2 separate regions of the Homo sapiens genome follow, and region 2 is linked to region 1. The links come from fine-mapping of genetic effects on gene expression. A gene starts in region 1. The other region holds a variant in brackets. All regions are shown on one strand. Distances are from middle to middle. Region 1 holds the start of B3GNT5 (UDP-GlcNAc:betaGal beta-1,3-N-acetylglucosaminyltransferase 5). Region 2 overlaps MCF2L2 (MCF.2 cell line derived transforming sequence-like 2).

Region 1 (2,791 bases):
ATCTCTCCCTCCTACCACCAAAAAACTTGCATCGTATTTCCAATCTCCAGACATACTTTTGAAACCATTTATCTATCTGGTGTGTTTATCTGTATCTAGTATGATGTGAATATGTGATTTGTATGTGTGTCTACCACTGTTTTGGTCAGTTTGTATTTCTCGTGGGTACAGTTCTATGTGCTCATGTATGTGGAACATATGTATACTGACACATGGACCTAGCTCCAAATGATCTGAAAGGAATATAATTGTAATTGAATATTTGCACAGATATACAACATACACATGTGATGGCTGGGGGAAATGCATGTGGGATTTCAGTCAGCATTTTATTAGAGAAGGTATGTCATTAGTGCTGTATTAACAATGAATCAGCTTATTTGTGGGTCACTGTCAATGACTCCTTTGCAAATCACACATGTAAATATTTCTGTCTGTGGTCTGATGAACATGCAGTGCCACAGTCTGGGAGATGCTGAGCCATGCCCTGTGTAGGCAGCATATGAAAAGAACTGCATGATTTAAAAGATGCTGACCAGCTTAAGGAAAGCAATTTAAAAACTTCCTAAAAATCTAGTTTGAATGAACAACAGTTTTCATTTTGTGTGTGTGTTTTTTCTTTTAGAGATGGGGTCTTGCTATGTTGGCCACGCTGGTCTCTAACTCCTGGGATCAAGCAATCCTCCTGCGGCTCAGCCTCCCAAAGTGATGGGATTACAGGTGTGAGCCACCGTGTCTGCTGGCCCCACTGTTTTAAACCCTGATTCGACAATCATACATTTAACTCATTACCTGTCTTGTTCCTTTTACGACAAACTCAAAGCTTTTATTTTACTAAAGTATTTGGGTTAATCTTTTGCTTTTCTGTCATGTTCTGAAATATGTACAATAACAGAATCGCTCAAAATATTATCTCCGTTAAATGTTTTGTGGCTTTAGGGAGAGGTCTAACAACATGCGGGAAACAAGAAATCAAGCGCATCCAGGATTCATTTATAATCTCTCTCGTTGAGTAGAAGTCCGCATCTCTCGATATTGTCTGGTTACCTGCATGAAGTATTCTAAAGGAGGAAAATAGCTCAAAGAGGACATTCATGTGCACTCTGGCTTCCAGTTGGCCATTTGAGTAAGTGATCGCAATTAACTGACGAGCGGCAGGGAAACACTTCCTGGAATTCTCATCTACAGACAAGAACAAACTGGGGCGGGGCCCATCACCTTCACCTACGCGCCGGGAGGGTGGCGGCTGGCGGGCGGGGCCGGGCTCGGGCCGTGACGCCGAGAGTGCGGGGCGCGCGGCTGGGAGCCTCGCGCCCCCGCCCGGGCCCGCCCCCATCCCGCCCGCATACAGCCCGCATCCCGCCGGGGAAGCGAGCCCAGTCCAGCGCTGCCCGTCCAGTCCTCGCCCAAGATTTAAAGCCCGCAAGTTTTGTTCTTGAGACCAGCGACTTTAGCTCCGATGCGGGAAGGAAAGCCGACCTCCGATTTGGACATTTAAAGAGCTGGGCTTGAACTTCGTGAGTTTCGCTCTAAACTGCCCTTGAAATGAAGCTGGACTTGGAGGTAAAGTCACTGGGAAGCTGGCCTGGGGCGGGGTTTCCCCCTCTTCTCGTATTTTAGAAACGGACAGCGGCAGTGCAGCCCTAGTTTGCTGTAAGTTTCCTTACTTTGTTACTGAGGCCCCCAGAGCTCCACGCATAAGTGGTGTGACCAGAAACCTTTTAACAAGACCCGCCTGAGCCTGCGTTAGAGCTCCCGCTCGGAAAGTAAAAGACCATCCTAATCCGCGGCGCTGCGGAACCGGTGTCCCGTGTGGGAGGAACCGCGGCGTTCCCTGGGCGTAGGGCCCGCGAGGCCAGCACAGTCCGCCTCTTGGCGGAGCGCCCTGGGCCGGTGGTTCCGCGCGGAGTTAGTCTGTGGTCAGTTACGTGGTGAAAACACGGCTGTGCCGCGGCCGCATCTTTCCGCGGCCGAGGCCTCTCTGGGTGGGAGTGTTGGCTTCCTTTCCGGATCGCTAAATGGGGAAAGTTCTGGCCGCTCGGCGGGATACGTCTCCAGGCCACGGATGGTTCGTTCTCCGTGCCGCGGCCCCGAGCTGGGCTCCCTGGGTCTCCAGCGCGGGCTCCCGGCATTGGGGGCTGCGGGCCGGCCCCTCCGCCCCGCCCCCGCCCCGCCGCGCCTCCTCGGCCGAGCGGCTCGCGGTCTCCGGCGCGGGAGGCTCCGAGTCTGCCCACTCCGGGCCGAGCGAGGTCTCTGGAGGAGAAGAGTGGCGAGGAGGTGAGGGCACGCCGGCCCTCGCCCGGCGGGTGGCGCCAGGACTTCAGGTGGGAACGCGCGCTTGGGCCGGGGGCGCGTGGCTGGCGTGGACACCGGATCGGGGCCCGCCGCCCTGGCCCGGACCGCGCACGGCCCAGCGCCGGGAAGTCGGGAAGCCGGGGAGGCCTCTCCCACCGCGGGCCCCGGCAGCCCGCCCTCTGAAAGCGCGGCGGAGAAGGAGGCTCGTCCCCTCCCCGGAACGCCTTTGTTCCCTCCGGCCTGCCCGCGCGGGTGGCCAGCGGCTGGGACCCAGGCCGGGCCGCCGCCCAGGTGCGGCAGGTAGGCTCGGGGGCCGGGCAGCTCCGGTTGGGGCGGCTTCCCGGGGCCTGCGGGTCCCCGTCCCTGAGGAGCTCCGGCTCCTCGGTGGCGGGACAGGCCCGTGCGCGGGAGCCGCGAGGCGAACGCCGCGCCCACCAATTCGGTTGCCGGCCGGGGGCCCCAGGCTTGCGGCCACCCGCCTCCGGCTGGAGGGCTG
Region 2 (2,791 bases), 42 kb before region 1:
CTGAGTTCAAGGGACTCTCCTGCCTCATCCTCCCGAGTAGCTTGGATTACAGGCGTGCATTACCATGCCCGGCTAATTTTTGTATTTTTAGTAGAGCCAGGGTTTCAGCATGTTGGCCAGGCTGGTCTCGAACTCCTGACCTCTGGTGATCTGCCCACCTCAGCCTCCCAAAGTGCTGGGATTACAGGCATAAGCCACTGCTCCCGGCCTTCATGCACTAAATTATTTAAAATATGTAAAATTACCTTCAGTCTATGTGTATAAGGTGTCATGAAACATAAATGAATTTCGTGTTTACACTTGGGTTCCATCTGCAACATAACTCAGTACGTATGCAAATACTCCAATCCTCCCCTAAAAAAAAAAAAACTCCAAAACACTTTTGGCCTCAAGCATTTTGGCTAAGGGATATTCAAACTTGTAGTTTCTATCTTACAATGTATTCACTCTCTACCTCATTTTAAACATTCGACGCATCTTACAGAAATATATACAGTATAGACAGATAGAAAATAACCGAGGGAATTAAGGTGAAGAAAAAATAAAGAAGTTGGGAGCTTGGCGCCTGCCTGTAGTCGCAACTACTTGGGAGGCTGAGGCAGGAGGATCACTTGAGTCCAGGAGTTTGAGGCCAGCCTGGGCAACATAGGGAGATCACCATCCCTAAATATAAAGACAATAAATCAGATGAACTGTTCCAGAAGGTGTAGAAGATAAAAGAAAAGATGAAGAGGTTATATGTAAAATGCATATAATAAAGCCATTTAAACTTGATGTAAACTTGGCTCTGACTTTCTAATAGCAATACAGAGGGAAACATGGTGAGTGGTACGATTTATTATGTCTGAAGACATACACAAACCGGTTGTTCAGGAAAAGCACAGCTATTCCTACTAAGACATAAGAAACATTTCTCCCAGTGATATGTTGTCACTGAGCAACATCCTCAACCACGCCCTATGATAGAAAGAGGAACATGTTTTAGGTAAAGCTGCTTGTAAGAACACATTTGGTCAGTGTGGAGGCTCAGCTGTCAAAGTAATTCTAGAAGAGGCTAGGATGATAGGGGAAGGGGGAATAAGTCGAGGTGTACACTCTCTAATGACTTGTGAAGATGGGGTGACGTGAGTTAAGGCATCCACAAGGCTATTGTAGAGGAAACAGCCCCAACCAGAAATGCTGAAGAGGCAGCCTCAGGCAGCAAGGTTTGTGCTTTATTACCTCTGAACTTTCCTCATCACCCCATCCACAGCCATGCTGCTGCACCTTCATAGGCAAGTAATCAGAGGATGTGAATCCAGAGAGGTACCAGCAGCTGACCATAGGGCCCCCAGCATAAAAACAATGTGCCAGGGTTGGGGGTTGGCAATGTGATCTCTCCCTGAACTGAAGAAAACAGGAGGAAGTG[G/A]TGACCAGCAGGAGACGGGGCTGTGAGATGCTTTAGGGGAAAGCAGGCAGTGGAATAAACGAGAAGGAAACAGAACTATGAAGAAGGTGAGTCATTAGAAATTATGAGGAAGAGGAAGAAACTGACGGAAGGGAAAAAAACAGTCAGTAGGTGGTAAGAGGGGGGGCGAGCAGGCATGTGGGTGCACTTGACATATACAGGCGGGTCACACAGGTAAGAACCCCGGCTCCCTCCCCAGGCCCAGGCCCCAGAGGTGCTGTGGATCCTGGGTTTGCTCAGTTCCCATCTCCGCGAACTTGGCTTTGCCATCGTGACTTCTTGAGAAGCTGCAGGTCAGCTTTCCAGTAAGCCCATTATTACTGGAAGTGACTCGGGGGGAGTCGCTGGGTCTTTCAAGTCTGGCAGAAACATATGGGCACATATCCTCTGGGTCATGTTGCACAAATGTTCTCAGGACCACACATATGACGGTATTGCCCATCTCCACGCCCAAGGTCCGATCTCCAGCGGGTGAGCACATGCCCTACACGGTGCTGACCAAGGGCAGGCACACACACTGTTCACTGTGCTGTGTGGAGCTGCTCCGCCTCCAACAGGAAGCTGCAGGGACATTCCCTGAGCAGGAGCAAGAATGACCTTTTCCGTCACGTGTACCTTTTCTTTCCAACTAGACTGTAGTTGATCTCAAGGTCGGAGACCACGTTGCACAACCTCTTTCAGATACGTGTTCACCAGTATTTATTTATTTATTGGCATTCCCTAGTATTTATTTATTTATTGGCATTTAGTGGTGCTTGGGAGTAGGGGACAGGAAACAAAATACTCATCACTGTGAGGGAATATTGATTTATCCAAGGAGTTCATTCAGCGACGCCCCTGTACTGGGTTGAATAGTGTTCCCCCAAAAACTCATGTCTATGAGACCCTCAAAATATGATCTTATTCGGAAAGAGGGTCTTTGCAGATACAATTGGTTAAGATGGGGTTGCCCTGGGTTAGGATGGGTCCAAATCCAATGACTGGTATCCTTATAAAAAAAGAAAACAAAGAAATGGAGACGCACGCTGAGGGAACAGCCATGCAAAGGCAGAGGCAGAAATTGGAGTGGCACAGCTGTCAGCCAAGGAACTCCAAGAATTGCCGGCAGTCACCAGAAGCTCAGACGAGGTAAGGAAGGATTCTTCCTGAGAGCCCTCAGAGGGAACGTGGGCCTGCTCTCACCTTGCCTTTGGACGTCTAGCCGTCAAAACTGTGAGGGAATAAATTTCTGTTGTTTTAAGTCACGTACTTTGTGGTTCCTTGCGACATCAGCCCTAGGAAACGAATATACTTCCAACTGTTTTCCACCAGTAACAAAGAAGTGTGGCCATGTCACACGGTGTG

Evidence for each region.
Region 2: its variant is fine-mapped to the expression of B3GNT5 in whole blood (TOPMed, PIP above 0.99).

Annotation. Positions count from the first base shown.
Region 1 is chr3:183,251,910-183,254,700 of GRCh38, forward strand. B3GNT5 (UDP-GlcNAc:betaGal beta-1,3-N-acetylglucosaminyltransferase 5) reads left to right here and starts at 1,344. Exons shown (of 2, transcript NM_032047.5): 1 at 1,344-1,563. All of the region lies in intron 15 of MCF2L2 (MCF.2 cell line derived transforming sequence-like 2), which reads right to left. LOC124906310 (a long non-coding RNA gene) reads left to right here. Exons shown (of 3, transcript XR_007096189.1): 3 at 626-646.
Region 2 is chr3:183,209,580-183,212,370 of GRCh38, forward strand. The region is part of intron 22 of MCF2L2 (MCF.2 cell line derived transforming sequence-like 2); the gene reads right to left. Among named protein-coding and RNA genes, the nearest start is that of B3GNT5, 42 kb to the right of the region's middle. The variant G/A (reference allele first, on the strand shown) is at 1,409.